2 separate regions of the Homo sapiens genome follow, and region 2 is linked to region 1. Evidence: fine-mapped expression QTL. Tissue or cell type: blood mononuclear cells. Region 1 holds a variant in brackets; the other region holds the start of a gene. All regions are shown on one strand. Distances are between the middles of the regions.

What was found. PIP is the estimated chance that this variant, and not a neighbour inherited with it, causes the effect.
Region 2: STYX starts here. The variant in region 1 is fine-mapped to the expression of STYX in blood mononuclear cells (TOPMed, PIP 0.93).

The regions. Positions count from the first base shown.
Region 1 is chr14:52,785,917-52,794,022 of GRCh38, forward strand. It overlaps GNPNAT1 (glucosamine-phosphate N-acetyltransferase 1), which reads right to left and starts at 5,691. Exons shown (of 6, transcript NM_198066.4): 1 at 5,512-5,691. LOC105370500 (a long non-coding RNA gene) reads left to right here and starts at 5,872. Exons shown (of 3, transcript XR_943867.3): 1 at 5,872-6,410. RefSeq lists enhancers at 4,918-5,007, 5,088-5,177, 5,285-5,798, 5,799-6,313 and silencers at 5,488-5,567, 5,668-5,887. The variant T/C (reference allele first, on the strand shown) is at 4,248.
Region 2 is chr14:52,726,954-52,735,059 of GRCh38, forward strand. It overlaps STYX (serine/threonine/tyrosine interacting protein), which reads left to right and starts at 3,213. Exons shown (of 11, transcript NM_145251.4): 1 at 3,213-3,578. The coding sequence starts at 3,522. PSMC6 (proteasome 26S subunit, ATPase 6) reads left to right here. Exons shown (of 14, transcript NM_002806.5): 14 at 546-1,637. The coding sequence ends at 664. RefSeq lists silencers at 2,898-3,357, 3,428-3,507 and an enhancer at 6,958-7,252.

The DNA.
Region 1 (8,106 bases):
TTTTTTGTATTTTTAGTAGAGACGGAGTTTCGCCATGTCAGCCAGGCTGGTCTCAAATTCCTGACCTCGGGTGATTCGCCTGCCTCAGCCTCCCAAAGTGCTGGGATTACAGGTGTGAGCCACCATGTCTAGCCACATGTAGCTTTTTTTTTTTTTTTCAATGAACCATGAATAGAAGAAAATTGATGAACAGGCTCAAATTAATTTTTTTTTTTGGCATTCTCAGAAATACTTTACCTTGGCTATGCTAGATATACACTGCAGGATTTTGTTTTCACAGCAGATTTTCTAAAAATCTGTGGTATGGACCAGGCATGGTGGCTCGTGCCTTTAATCCCAGCACTTTGAGAGGCAGAGGCAGGTAGATCACCAGAGGTCAGGAGGTCAAGACCGGCCTGACCAACATGGCGAAACCCTGTCTCTACTACAAATACAAAATTAGCCAGGTGTGGTGGTGGCCACCTGTAATCCCAGCTACTTGGGAGGCTGAGGCAGGAGAATCACTTGAACCCAGGAGGTGGAGGCTGCAGTGAGCTGAGATCACACCATTGCGTTCCAGCCTGGGCAACAAGAGTGAAACTCCGTCTCAAAAAAATTAAATTAAAATTAAACTGTATAGTGTTTCTCAGTTGCATCTAAGCAGCTTAAAAATAGCTGGTGTTTTTCATGCTATTGAAAAGTGATCATGATATTTCCCCCTCTTTTTTGAACATTTAGAAATGAGCAGGTTCTCACTAGTTGTAATGTTTTAAAACTGAGACTAAATAACAGAGAAGTAACGATAGGAAGGATGAAAAACAAATCATACAAAGCATAAAACTGGGGCCAGGGGGCTTCTGTGCAGCACAGAATTGCTAAAAGAAACAGATGCTTCCCAACAATTAAAAGTTGAGTATTCCTTATCCAAAATGCTTGGGACCAGAAATGTTTCAGGTTTTGGATTTTTTTTTTTTTTTTTTTTTTTTTTTTTTTTCAGATTTGGGGATATTTGCATATACATAATGAGATATCTTGGGGATGGGACCCAAGTCAAAATTCATTTGTGTTTCATATACATCTTATACAGATAGCACAAATATTTTACACAATATTTTAAATAATTTTGTGCATGGAAAAGTTTTTGTACATTATACCAGATGTGGAATTTTCCACTTGTGGCATCATGTTGGCCCTCAATAAAGTTTCAAATTTTGGAGTGTTTTGGATTTTTGGATTAGAGATCCAAAAAAAGCAGTCCCCAACTTATTTCTATATCCAGTTAAAGAAACCATATTTTAATGAGAGAACAATTTGCCCAATAACCTAACCCCCAATTGTTCCTTATTTCATAAGTCACAGTATGCTTTAGGGCAAATATTCTTAACTTTTCCTTAAAGATGGATAATAAGTTTCTGCCTGTATAATCCTATGTAACTATATAAGCAATGCTGCAATATACTAGTTATGGGAAGGTAGTGTGATGTGATGTAACAACAGAAGTTAACACTTGCTCAGCACTTCTTATGTGCCAGACTGTTGAAAGAGCTTTACTAATTCATTTATTTCAACCATCCTACAGGTTAGGAGTGGTTATTATCTACATTTTAACAGATGAGAAAATGTTAAGTAACTTGCCCAAGGTCACAAAATTAGCGGAGCCAGGATTTAAACCTAGGCATAGAAAGAGCATGAGCTTTGGATTCATACCTGGTGTTCAAATGTCAACTGTGTGATATGTACTACGGTAATTAAGCTTTTAGAATCTAGTTTCCTCATTTGTAAAATGGAGATGAAATTACTGGGAGAATTAAATGCATTACTGTATGCAGTCATGCACTTAGCAGTGCCTGGAATACTGCAAGTACTTAATAAGATATATGCTAGTTAGCAATAAATTTAAAATTAAAGTTTATAAATTCTTGTTCATTTTTTTTTACCTTTAATTCATGAATCAGGCACTGTGCTGGTTACAGGAACTACAAAAAGAATGACAGGCTCTTACGTTTATGTTATACCAAAAGTTAGCATTCTTGGGTAGAAAAGAACGTAGTTTATAATGTAGACTGCTGAGAGGTCCCCCCAGCCACACACACACAAAATGATTCAAATTATGCTGCATACACTATACCCAGTTCTAACAATATTAAGGAAAATATAGAAATTGTGATGATCAAGCAGTCATTTCAAATTTAACAAGTTTAATAGCCATTCAAAATAGGTTTTTTGTTTTGTTTTATTGTTTTGAGACAGGGTTTTACTCTGTTGCCCAGGCTGGAGTGCAGTGGTGCAATCATAGCTCACTGCAGCCTCAAACTCCTGGGCTCAAGTGATCCTCCTACCTCAGCTTCCCACATCAGCCTCCAGAGTAGTTGTGACTACAGGCTCATACCACCACGCCTGGCTAATTTTTGTATTTTTAGTAGAGATGGGGCTTTGCCATGTTGGAAAGGCTGGTCTTGAACTCCTGACCTCAAGTGATCCTCCAGCCTCAGCCTCCCAAAGTTCTGGAATTACAAGTGTGAACCAGCATGCTCAGCCAAAACAAGTTTTTAATAGATGAAATTGAGTCCACGTGTTTTAGTGTTTTGTCTAAATTGGACCCTTGAGGTTTTTGTGTGTAATCTCATCTGAATGGTAGGTAGCAACATTGTTTTTCAGGTATGTAGATAAACAGGCTAAGTATTAATAAAGTGAAATGTGTACAGTATTAAAAATGTAAATTCCTCGAGGCAGCACACTATTTAAACATTTTGGTCTTGCTATTAAACATATAGTTGTAAATACAAAGTTCAAAGAAAACTCAAAAGAGAATTTAAATCAACCTTAACCACATTTAACTAGATTCCTTTTTCCTATAAAGTTGTCTGTGTTTACAATAAAAATGTGGTCTAGAAAACATGAAAAATAGGGTTAATAATTTTCATGAGAGGGAAGAAGTATACAGGAAAACAACTAGGATTATGAAGCCCTTAAATAATGAATTTTAACCAGGAAATACTAATATTTTCTTGTACTTTTCTTTGATGAGACAGTCCTTTTCCACGAATGATCATAAAAATAAATAATATTGGCTAACACTTATTGAAAACTTTCTATATGTTAACTCTTAAAAATACAATGAACGATGTATCATTATTATCCCAATTTTACAGATAAGGAAGCAGGCACAGTAACTTGCTCAAGGTTAGAGTGCCAATAAGAACAGAGTGAGGATTCAAAATGAGGCAACAGGGCCAGCTTCAGAAGCCCCTGACCTGTGCCGTTACACAGGGCCCTGCACTTAAGTTTGATACCCTGCTGCCACTGTTTTGAAGTTCTTAATTTTTTAACAAGGAACCCTGCATTTTAATTTGGATTACCACAGATTACGTAGCCAGTCCTGCTAGGTAGTATGACTTCAGACTCTGCTCTTAACCATTACACTGAAGATGCACTAGAGTAGATAAATTCCCTATCTTACTGTTGTACAAGGGTTAAAAATTAAGTCATAAGCAGCACTTAGAACCTACATTTGGAAAATGGGAATCAGACTAGTCAAAATACATTAAACAAAGCATTACAGATTGAAATAAGAATCTATTAACCAGGCAATCAGAAATTAACATCAAAAATTTTTTTATGAGCTATTCTACAAAACAGAGCCATACTGAAGGCCCACTTTAGCTCACTCTGTCCTCAAACCGTAAAATTCTGCTGGTGCCCAACTAAGGTACTGGGCAAAGTGAAGCAAGATATGACTTGAAACCTGGTTCCAAGGGGGTTTAGAACATAATTAAATAAGTAATTTTATATAAATAATCTTTTAGCATCTTCAGGTGCCCAGATATTGCAAAACTAGGAAATTTCTGCGAATAAAATTGCACAGTTGTGTGAAGCGGAATCTCATCATATCATTAGGTTCTTTAAAGTTTTTAGATGAACTTTAAACACTAATCCTCCTTAAGTATTCCTCAGAACCTTTTCTGATTAACTGCTAAATTAGCAGGCGTTTAGAAGACCCGTTTAAGCCTAACCCTAGCCCAATAATGCCTAGTGAATGAATAACGAATAAGACTTACCTGTAGGTCACATTTCAGAAAATCCAGAAGGACAAAAAAAAAAAAAAAAAAAAAAATTCCCAAACTGCCACAATATCGCGGAAAGCATACACCAAATTCATTTTTACTAGTCATCACATCAGTTGAATATTTTTTCACTCAATTGAATATTTTTTAAACAAAACTTCAACTATTTGGCGTCTGAGCCTCTGTATCAGGTTGGAATACGAA[T/C]GGGGAGAGAGGCTGCTGCTAGAAGCAACCAACGGAGAGCAACAAGTAATAGACACCGGAGATGAAGATTTTAAAAGTCGATCTACAAATTTTAAAAAATACAATCTAAGGCCAAATCTAAACCAGCCTATGTATTTCTCAAGAGCTCCTGGGGAACCTTCTAAGTACAGGTGAATGGGGGAGGGGCGGACTTCGGATTCCTTTATATTCATTTTATAACAATTTCGATAACAAGAATCCATTCTGAATCTATTCCGTTAAAGATTTTTAACACACCTGGCCATATTTATTAAATTGTGTAACTGCATGAATGTTCAAAAGTATTTTCTGATAGTTTGACCTTTACAATCTAGGCGTTATTCCCAGTCTACCGATGAGGAAGCTGGAGCACCTGGAACTCCCAAGACTTGCCCCTTAGGTAACACAGCAAGTAAGTGACTTGGGGCTAGAATCCTCGTTTTCGCATCTTGAGCTCGATTACCATCCTCAACAGACCCCAATCTTTACATCATCATACCATACAGCTAGCGCTCTCTCCCCTATTTAGCAAATCCTGCCTAAATTAATTTCTTAAGATCCATTCTAGGATTCGTTCATGAGGGATTATCCTAACAAAACGAATCCTATAATCGCCCGTTCAATTTTGTATGAAAATTTTAAATTAGTTTGGCTTACATAAACATCAGCTCCCGCAACAGAAATCACAGTACAGTACTCGGTATTTCTAGGGGTAGGAGCCTAGGAAAAAGAGACAAAGAATGTCCCTCTGTACCCTGGGGAAAGCGCCGACCTACTCGGTGCGGAGGTGGTCTTCGGAGCAGCTGCCTCAATGGCTCCGACCACCGTGGGATGCGCCCGGGAATGGGAGAAGAGAAGGGGCCTGGGACGTTCGTGCCCATTCAAAACCGATGGCTGCAGAGAGCGCGACCAACTGTCTCATTTCCCACGCCAAAGTCTGGGGAGCGAAGTTCCGACCCCAGTCCCAGTTCCAGCCCTGCCAGGCCAAGACCAGCGTATGGCCGGACCGCTGGCCATCATCCTTAACCTCTGCTCCAGGCGCGCGTGCGTTCAACTTCCTGGGAACCGCGCTCCACACCATGTGCACCCAGCTGGCGAGGATTAACGCCCAGCTCCTCCACACAACACCCCCGGGGGCCTGGCCGGGGCACCAGACACACCTGTTAGATAAACCTGAGGGCAGGCCCGCCCCAGCCCCCAGGACACACGGTCCTGCTCTCGCGCCCCGGCCCCGGTCCCTCCTCACCCGTAGAGGCCCTGCGGTCGGCGCTCCTAGCCAGGCGCGTCGGACTCTCCCCCACCAGTGTGCACAGCACCGGATCCGGATCCGGCTTCAGCGCCAGCCCCACCTCCTCCTCCACCGCCCGCGCCACAGTTGGGAACCGCGGCCCAGACGTGGCAGCGCCAACGCCTCCACCTCGCCTCTGCCCCCTCACGCAGGGCCGCGCGCAGGCGAGCGGAGGCGGAGGCCAAGGCGCCACCCGCCCAGGCCCGGAGAGCGAGGGGCGGGGCCCGGAGAGCGGGGGCGGGACCAGGAGGGCGAGGGGCGGGGCTCGGAGAGCGGGGGCGGGACCAGGAGGGCGAGGGGCGGGGCCTGAGGCTCGAGTCGCGGCGCCTGGGGCGGTGGCCGCCGGACCAAAGCTGGCCTCTCCCGGCTCCTCCTCCTCGCTCCCCAAGGCCTTTCCCACCGCGTCATTGTCTCGGTTTATCTGCAGATACGTCTACCTAGCAGTCAGCCCAGCAGCGTAAGTGGTGACCAGTGTGGGCCTCTTTGATCCTGAGACCGAAGGCTCGGCCACTGGCCCTCTCCATTTGTTCCTTGTTGCCCTCCCTTCATGATTCAATCCATTAATTAGGACTTTTCCTACCAGCTGGCAGTTCAGAGCTCCGCATCCCCAGGCCTCTGAGTCACAGTTCCTGCCTTCATGAAACTAGGAGTTGGGGCCACTGCATTCTACTCCTTCGGGACTATTGTTTCATTTCTCAGTCCCTCAAACCCTTTATTGGATGAACATGGGGTTAGGACAGCGGTTCTCCACTGCAACAGTTTTGCCTCCCAGGAGACATTTGGCAATGTATGAATCATTTTCAGCCTCTCATCTGGGGTGAGATGTCATTGGAATCTACAGATGGTGGAGGGCACAGGTGAGTAGAGGCCGGGAATACTGCTTCACGCCTTACAGTGCGCAGGACAGCGCCGCACAACAAAGAATTACCTGGCCTGAAATGTCTGGAGTGCTGAGGTTTAGAAACCTTTCGTTAGGAGAAGAAAAGTGACTTTTTTCAGAGCCCCATTTCTGAAGTGTCTTACCTAAGTAGCACTTTGTCCCTATTTTAACAGATGAGGAAACAGAGGTTCAGAGATGTTACATAATTTACAAAAGTCTCATAGCTAGTAGCTCCCCTTCCTTGCCTTGTACCATAATTTTCAATTTATTGAAATCGCAAAGTATTTTATTCTTAAGCAATAGTATTCAAAGAACCCCATAGATCATATACCAGAAATCATATTTTTTGCTCATTTGTGAGATTTAAATTTCAGTTAACTCCTTTACTGATTTATGCTTTCTCAGAACTTCAAACATCAGTGAGTTGATGGCATCCATATCTCTGTTTTTATCTCTGTTTTTACACCCATACATACAAAAGAATATATAGGGCATGAGCAGAATGTGGTGGTATGCATCCGTAGTCCCAGCTACTCCAGAGGCTGAGGCAGGAGGATCACTTGAGCCCACAAGGTTGAATCCAGCCTGGACAATAGAGCAAGACCCTGTCTCTAAAAAAAAAAAAAAAAAAAAAAAGAATATGTAAGGCATAAATAAAATAAACACTCATGGCTGGGCGTAGTGGCTCACACCTGTAATTCCAACATTTTGGGAGGCCTAAGCAAGTGGATCTCTTGAGCCCAGGAGTTTGAGACCAGTCTGTGCAACATGGTAAAAACCTGTCTCTACAAAAAAAAATACTGAAAATTAGGCAGGCATGGTGGCATGTGCCTGTAGTCCCATCTACTCAGGAGGCTGAGGTAGGAGGATAACCTGAGCCCGGGAGGCAGAGGCTGCTGTGAGCCATGATTGCAAGACTGCACTCCAGTCTGGGCCACAGAGCAAGACCCTGTCTCAAAACAAACAAAAATTTAAAAAAATGCTTATGTACACACCACTAATCTTAAGCATATGGCCCTCCCCGTTTTTCTTATCAGACTTCTGGTCAAATGTTTTCAGTGAGTTTATCCTGTACAACAAACTGCTGTATGTTTTATAAATTAGCAAAAAGTGAAACATAAGCAATTCTAAAATCACAGAACACAAGGCTTGTAAGAGGTACCCCCAGAGATCTCATACTTTCCACATATACTCCTCCTTACCCACATTGGGCCATAAGAACCCAATTTCTCCTTAATAGACAAGGTCGATTACTCTGGCCAGTACAGTTAACCCCTTTCTTTGCCTGTAGGTTCACTTGGCAATGAGGAGCCCAAGATAACCAGGAGACAGTCTCAACTTCTGGTTTAATGGAACCATTGGTATGTCCTTTGGTTGATTTTTATTTATTTTTCTAGATTCTTAGAAGAAATGCTGCATTCACCATTATTCTTTTTTTTTTTTTTTTTTTTTTTTTTTTTTTGAGAGGGAGTCTTACTCTGTAGCCCAGGCTGGAGTGCAGTGGTGTGATCTCAGCTCACTGCAACCTCCACCTCCTGGGTTCCAATTAAGCAATTCTCCTGCCTCAGCCTCTTGAGTAGCTGGAATTACAGGTGCGCACTACCACACCCAGCTAATTTTTGTATTTTTAGTAGAGATGGGGTTTCACCATGTTGGCCAGGCTGGTCTTGAAC
Region 2 (8,106 bases), 59 kb before region 1:
TTAAATATTCATATAATGGTCATACCTGTTTTTGTTTTAGAACATAATCACAACACCGCTATGGATTTTTTTTTTTTTTTTTTTTTGAGATGGGGTCTCGCTCTGTTGCCAGGCTGGAGTGCAGTGCCACTATCTCAGCTCACTGCAACCTCCGCCTCCTGGGTTCAAGCCATTCTCCTGCCTTAGCCTCCCGAGTAGCTGGGACTACAGGCGCGCGCCACCATGCCCAGCTAATTTTTTTTTTTTTTTGTATTTTTAGTAGAGATGGGGTTTCACCGTGTTGGCCAGGATGGTCTTAATCTCTTGACATTGCAATCTGCCCATCTTGGCCTCCCAAAGTGTTGGGATTACAGGCGTGAGCCACCGCACCCGGCCTGTGGATTTTAATTGAAAAAAGATAGTGGTTTTTAGCAAATTACAACTACTGGCTCAGAAGTAATAAATCTAAGCTTCACATTTATTCCATAGAATTATATTGTTTTTCTTATAATGAACATATAATTCATATGTGATATATAGCAGTCATGTTGTTTTATTCTCTACAGGTATGTTCGCAATTCGTGCTGATCATGATTTTGTAGTACAGGAAGACTTCATGAAAGCAGTCAGAAAAGTGGCTGATTCTAAGAAGCTGGAGTCTAAATTGGACTACAAACCTGTGTAATTTACTGTAAGATTTTTGATGGCTGCATGACAGATGTTGGCTTATTGTAAAAATAAAGTTAAAGAAAATAATGTATGTATTGGTAATGATGTCATTAAAAGTATATGAATAAAAATATGAGTAACATCATAAAAATTAGTAATTCAACTTTTAAGATACAGAAGAAATTTGTATGTTTGTTAAAGTTGCATTTATTGCAGCAAGTTACAAAGGGAAAGTGTTGAAGCTTTTCATATTTGCTGCGTGAGCATTTTGTAAAATATTGAAAGTGGTTTGAGATAGTGGTATAAGAAAGCATTTCTTATGACTTATTTTGTATCATTTGTTTTCCTCATCTAAAAAGTTGAATAAAATCTGTTTGATTCAGTTCTCCTACATATATATTCTTGTCTTTTCTGAGTATATTTACTGTGGTCCTTTAGGTTCTTTAGCAAGTAAACTATTTGATAACCCAGATGGATTGTGGATTTTTGAATATTATTTTAAAATAGTACACATACTTAATGTTCATAAGATCATCTTCTTAAATAAAACATGGATGTGTGGGTATGTCTGTACTCCTCCTTTCAGAAAGTGTTTACATATTCTTCATCTACTGTGATTAAGCTCATTGTTGGTTAATTGAAAATATACATGCACATCCATAACTTTTTAAAGAGTATGATTCAACGTAATATTTGCTAATATGTGACTGGGTTTTCTTGGTTTATGTAAGACGATAGGTCCCTGTTGAGGATGTGGAGGTCTGGACCCTCTTCCAGGAAAAATTCTAACATACAATTTTGCGTATACTATAATTTCAGGAAATTTATTGTTTCCCAAGCTCATCCAAGGACTCTTTAGGTATGTATGGATACCTGGCTAAGAGTGTATGATGTAGGGGATGTAGGAGTGTCAGAAATGTTCAAAACATGATTTCTGTTACCTATACATGATTCTTATATCATCTGGCAATAAAAGCTATAACAAAGTACACAAAGGAATCATCATTGGGCATCAATAATTATTAAAGATGCTGGTGAAAAGAAAAGACAACTTCAGTTTCATAAACACTAAAGAACCAAAAATACATGACCTAGCTAATTATACAATAATTCTTCAAATTAAAAACTTCCTAGCAGGATATTATGTGCCTTTTTATAATTTTAGAAGATGAACAGTTAAAATAGAAAATGGAGTGGTCAAGTTAGCCATCTCATACTCAAATTATTGTACAGTTCTATTTCTATGTGTTGGCAGTGCATTTTATGTGACAAAAAGTAGAATGTAGGGGGAGGTTTAAGTCAAATATCTATGTGATCTTTTCACTTATAATTTGCATTTAGTTAAGGAGTGACTATCTTGCCTTTTACCTTTGTGCTGGCGGTGGTTTTTTAAAGAATCAATTTGGTGTACAAATCCTTTCTTTCTTTTTTTATTTTTGATTTTTTTTGAGATGGAGTTTCGCTCTTGTTGCCCAGGCTGTAGTGCCATTGCACTATCTCAGCTCATTGCAACCTCCGCCTCCCGGATTTAAGCGGTTCTCCTGCCTCAGCCTTCTAAGTAGCTGCGATTACTGGCATGCGCCACCACACCCAGCTAATTTTTGTATTTTTAGTAGAGACGGGGTTTCTCCATGTTGGTCAGGCTGGTCTCAAACTCCCGACCTCAGGTGATCCACACGCCTCAGCCGCCCAAAGTGCTGGGATTACAGGCGTGAGCCTCCGCGCCCGGCCCAAATCTTTTCACCATGGGTTTACAGGCATAACGCCACCACACCCAGGGAATTTTAAAATTGTTTTTTAGAGAGGGGGGTCTTACTATTTTGCTCAGGCTGGCAAACTCCTTTTAAAAGATATTGAAAGCCATCTGGTTTATTATTTTTATTTCAAAATATAATAATGGAAGAAATTTTACAGTATTATATACAATTTACTGAGTCAGCTATCAGTTCCTTTTTCTGATTTTTTTCTAGTTGCCATTCTTGATATTTTCTAGGTAATCTAAACTGAGTTGTATTTTCAAGTACTCTTAAAATACTTTAAAAAATTTTAAATTGAGCCGTTTAATTCTTTGCTTAAAGGTGATGGGTATTTTATTTTCTGTATGGCACCACGTGATTTTAAATTGAACTCTTCATTTATTAGTCATTTGGTTATAAACTCAGCATAGATTGCGCAGAATTTTGAGAGGGGAGAAACTATAGCTTTCCTTTCGGATGCCACTGGTGGGTAGCCTGTTTTGCCTGTTTGTTCTTATGTTAAAGAAGGGCTCTACGTCCTGTCTGGAAAGGGCGGAGCTGGCTCGGACCGCCCCACTGCCTTTCCCAGGACCTTCACTCGTCCTGTCCCACCGCAGCCCCGCCTCCTCCACGCCGGGTGAGCTGTGGCCTAGCAGCATCCGAGGCTCCGCCCCCCCCACCCCCAAGCGTCTGCGCTCTAGCGAAGGGGCGGAGCAGGGCGGTGGCGCGCTGACACCTGGCGGCGGCGGAGGGCGGGCAGAAGGCGAGCGTGGGCTGGGATTGGCTGAGGCGACGCGGGTGGAGGGGGCGGGAAGGAGGCGGGGAGACGGTTGTCGGGCTGGTTCCTGTGCTGGATCCTGGGCGGCCTGAGGGGTACGGAGACTCTGGGGGAGGGAGACGGCAGCGGCATGGCGGCCGGGTGTAAGACGCCCGACCCTCCTCTTCCCTGTCTTCGCCGCCGCCGCTGCTGGAGTCACTGGGACCCTGTAGTCTGCGTGTGTTAGTTGTAATCCCGCCGCCCTCCTGTCAGCCCTCCGCTCCGCCGGCCCTCCTTCCTTCCGCCGCCGCAGCCAGCCCGAGGGTCGGCCGGCTGTGTAACACTCTCCCACCCCACCCACCAGCCCGCGGGCCAGCACCATGGAGGACGTGAAGCTGGAGTTCCCTTCCCTTCCACAGTGCAAGGAAGACGCCGAGGTGAGTCGCTCCCGTGGCTGCCACGCACAGGCCTCTCCCTGTGGCTCCGGCCGAGGGGCGACCCCAGTCCCCAACCGTCTTAGCCGCCACCTGTACGGGCGCCCTGCCTCCTAAGGGCGTCCCGGGACCTCTGAAGCCGAGCGGTCGGCTCCAATCCCCACTGAGTTGCTCGTCCTCTCCAGACCCCGCGGAGGGGCAGCGTCTGGTGTACTTACATTTGAGAAGAGGAAAAGCAATCCCTTAGTCCCTAGGCTTGGCATCCAGGACTGACCTGGAGTAAGGTTCCTCTTTTATTGTCAAAGTAACAAGAGAGCGAAGTTGGTTTAGTCTCCTTTTGAGGAATATCTGTGGTGTAAACGATTCACTTGTGGGACACATGGCCCCACATGTGAAATAGACTCGGCGCCTGAAGTTTGGAAGCGCGCCTTCGAAAAGTTTCCCAAAGTTTTTTGTTTGTTTTTAGACAAAGCTATGACCCGCACAACAAAGTGTCTCAAAGCTAGCTCATCTTAATCTGAGAACTCTTAATCAGAAATCTTGACCTTTGGAGGAAAATTAATATTGAAAGTAAAATACTATATACCTTTTCTCCTGGTTTCTAATTTGTGGCTATTTTTACTCCACCTTAGATCCCTGCCTGCTGTTTCTACTCGGATTTTTTTTCATCTGTTGCTAGTTTAACATTTTACGGCATTGCAGACTACTAAATTAGAATTTTCTGGAGGCTAAATTAACAAGACGAAGATACTCAGCTATACTTTAGTAGGATTAAGAAAGAAAATCTAACATCGCTAGTTAAAAATACCTTTAAAGTAGTTGGGAAAAATAAAGCCCTATTTTTAGGAGACCATTCAATTTATTCCGAATATTTATTCTATTGAATATCTTCATTGGAGGTTCACTTTTTTTTTTTTTTTTTTTTTGAGACGGAGTCTTGCTCTGTCGCCAGGCTGGAGTGCAATGTGGCGCGATCTCGGCTCACTGCAACCTCCGCCTTCCGGGTTCAAGCGATTCTCCTGCCTCAGCCTCCTGAGTAGCTGGAACTACAGGCGCGCACCACCACGCCCAGCTAATTTTTGTGTTTTTAGGGGAGACGGGTTTCACCATTTTGGCCAGGGTGGTCTCGATCTCCTGACCTTGTGATCCGCCCGACTCGGCCTCCCAAAGTGCTGAAATTGCAGGTATGAGCCACCGCGCCCGGCCTAGGTTCACATTTTTGTTTGGAGGGCTCTCTTGTGGTATTGATGCTTGACAATTACATTTGTTTTAAGAGTAGAGACTTTGTTTGTGACTATCACTGTTGCAAAATGTAGTGCAGTGGTGTGATCTCGGTTCACTGCAGTCTCGAACTCCCATGCTCAAGCCATCCTTTCACCTCAGCCTCTGGAGTAGCTGGGACCATGCCGGGCTAATTTTTCTTTTTTTTTTTTTTTGTAGCGATGGGTTTTTTCTCCAGGCTGGTCTCGAACTCTTGGCCTCAAGATCCTCCCGCCTTGTCCTCCGAAAGTGTTGGGATTACAGGTGTGAGCCACTGCACCTGGCCCAAGAATATACTCATGGTTTTTTTTTTTTTTTTTTTTTTGACACAGAGTTTCACTCTTGTTGCCCCAGGCTGGAGTGCAGTGGCGCTGTCTCAGCCCACCGCAGCCTCTGCCTCGGGTCCCGGTTCAAACAGTTCTCCTGCCTAAGCCTCCTGAGTAGCTGGGGATTACAGGCGCGCACCGCCAGGCCCAGCTTTTTTTTTTTTTTTTTTGAGACAGAGTCTCACTCTGTCGCCCAGGCTGGAATGATCTTGCAGTGGTGCGATCTGGGCTCACTGCAAGCTCTGCCTCCCGTGTTCACGCCATTCTCCCGCCTCAGCCTCCCGAGTAGCTGGGACTGCAGGCACCCGCTACCACACCGGGCTAATTTTTTTGTATTTTTAGTAGAGACGGGGTTTCACCATGTTGGCCAGGATGGTCTCAAACTCCTGACCTTGTGATCCGCCTGGCTTGGCCTCCCAAAGTGCAGGGATTACAGGCGTGAGCTACCGCGCCCGGCCAATATACTCTTAGAAAACAGGAGGTCATATTTAGGCTAGTTATAAAAATGAATTTATACTTAACATACAATAATGTGAATGAAGAGTATGCTTTTATTTATTTATTTATTTTTTTGAGACGGAGTTTCACTCTTGTTGCCCAGGCTGGAATGCAGTGGCGTGATCTCCGCTCACTGCAACCTCCGCCTCCCACGTTCAAAAGATTCTCCTGCCTCAGCCGCCTGAGTAGCTGGGATTACAGGCGCCCGCCACCACTCCCGTCTAATTTTTGTACTTTTAGTAGAGACGGGGTTTCACCATGTTGGCCCTGCTGGTCTGGAACGCCAGACCTCAAGTGATCCGCCTGCCTCGGCCTCCCAAAGTGCTGGGATTACAGGCTTGAGCCACCGCGAAGGAGTATGCTTTCATATCCTCAAAATGATTCAGTAATTTCAGCACTTAACTGCAAGCAACCTTACAAATAATGTAGAGGAGTCCCACATTCCAGGTGAAGAAATTGTACCTTACTGAAAATAAGTGATGTGCCAAATTAACAACACAGTAGCACAAGACACAGAAGGACCTCGGCCTCCTAATTCATTGTTCTTTTTAATACACTTCAATTCTTCCCTGCCCTAATCTTAAAAATTCTAGTTTAAAATTTTCCCGGACTTTGCATTTAATCTGTTACTGTGTATATCATTATGTATGCCTTATTCCTGCAAAACTGATAAATTCTTGCTGGGAATATATACCTGTCTTTTCTGTGTGGGACTTGAAAACACACTCTTTTTTTTATGCTACCAGATGTGTGGGGGTTTTTCCATACCAAGCAGTTTTCCAGCAGGCATGAACTGAATGTCCCATAATTCAATTCTGACACATATGTACCTGAAGTTAGTCAGATCCCACAGGTTAATGGCTCAGTCCCGCAAGGCTGCCCCCAACCTCAGATGGTAATCACAAGTAGTAGGTTGTCACCTATACACTCCTGACTGACTGTAAATCAGGGTTCCCGTTACTCCCTCCTTGGTTCAGTTAACTTGCTAGAGTGACTTACAGGACTCAGGGAAGTACATTTACGGGTTTATTATAAAGGATACTACAAAAGATCAGTGAACAGCCAGTAGGAAGAGATGAATAGGGCAAGGTATGGGGGAAGGGGCACACCACCATCCCAGTGTCACCAGTAGAGTCATGATTGCAAGCTGTCCAGGTTCTTGGCGTTTTGAACAAAGAATTGGACAAAACTCCAAGCAAAGAAAGAATGAAGCAACAAAAGAACAAAAGCAGGGATTTATTGAAAACAAAAGTACACTCCACAGTGTGGGAGCTGCCCTAGCAGCACTCCCCCCCGACCCCCGCTGCTTTACCGAATCTTCTTGGGTCCAAATACCCCCTAGAACTTTCCCATTGGCCATTCCATGCTCACCTCATGTAAATGAAGAGGTGGCTTGCAATTGGTCTGATTGGTTGCCAGACCCACCCCCACATCAGTCCGCTTGGTTGTGGACAGCGACCATTCAGTGGCTAGAGTGAAGTTACAAAGTTGCAAACGAAGATTCCACCCGCAGTCAGTCTGATTTGTTGAGGACAGCCAATTTCCCGTCTACTGTGCAGAAAAGGTAGGTGGTTTGCAACGGGAGTAGCCTCTGGTCCTTTTGTTACTTAGGCGTGGAAAGTTAGGGTTTTCCCTTCAAGTTAGTTCTGGGAAGTCGGGGTGAAACAGCCTTAGATTCCCTGCCTCCAGACCCTATTCACCTGCCTCACTAGCACCTCCAGTGTTTTCATCCAGAAGCTCAACAAATCTTATTCAACGGTTTTTATAGAACTTCATCTCCATCCCCTCCCATAGAGGTGTGTGTGTGTGTGAGGCTGAGAGTTCAACCCTCTTGTCACATGGTCTTTCTGGTGACTGGCCCCACCCTAAATCACTTCATTAGCATAATCAGGTTTGATCAAAAATAGTGGCTCATAAATAACCAAAGACACTCCTATTAGAAAATTCCAAGAGTTTTAGGAGGACTGTGACAGGAACTGGAGAGAAAGACCATGTATTTCATATTATATCACAGGGACAGAGGTAATGGTTAAAGCTAGTGGATAATGATGCAAGTATTGTCTGCTGAAAGCCAATTCGTTCCGTATTTCTTAATATTGCATGTTTGGTATCTTTTGGTTGCAAGCAACAAAAACGAATTTAAGAAAAAGAAGAAGTAATTAAATCCGGCCGGGCGTGGTGGCTCACGCCTGTAATCCCAGCACTTTGGGAGGCCGAGGCGGACGGATCACGAGGTCAGGAGATCAAGACCATCCTGGCTAACACGGTAAAACCCCGTCTCTACTTAAAAAAAAATTAGCCAGGTATGGTGGCGGGCGCCTGTAGTCCCAGCTACTTGGGAGGCTGAGGCAGGAGAATGGCATGAACCCGGGAGGCGGAGCTTGCAGTGAGCCGAGATCTAGCCACTGCACTCCAGCCTGGGAGACAGAGCGAGACTCCATCTCAAA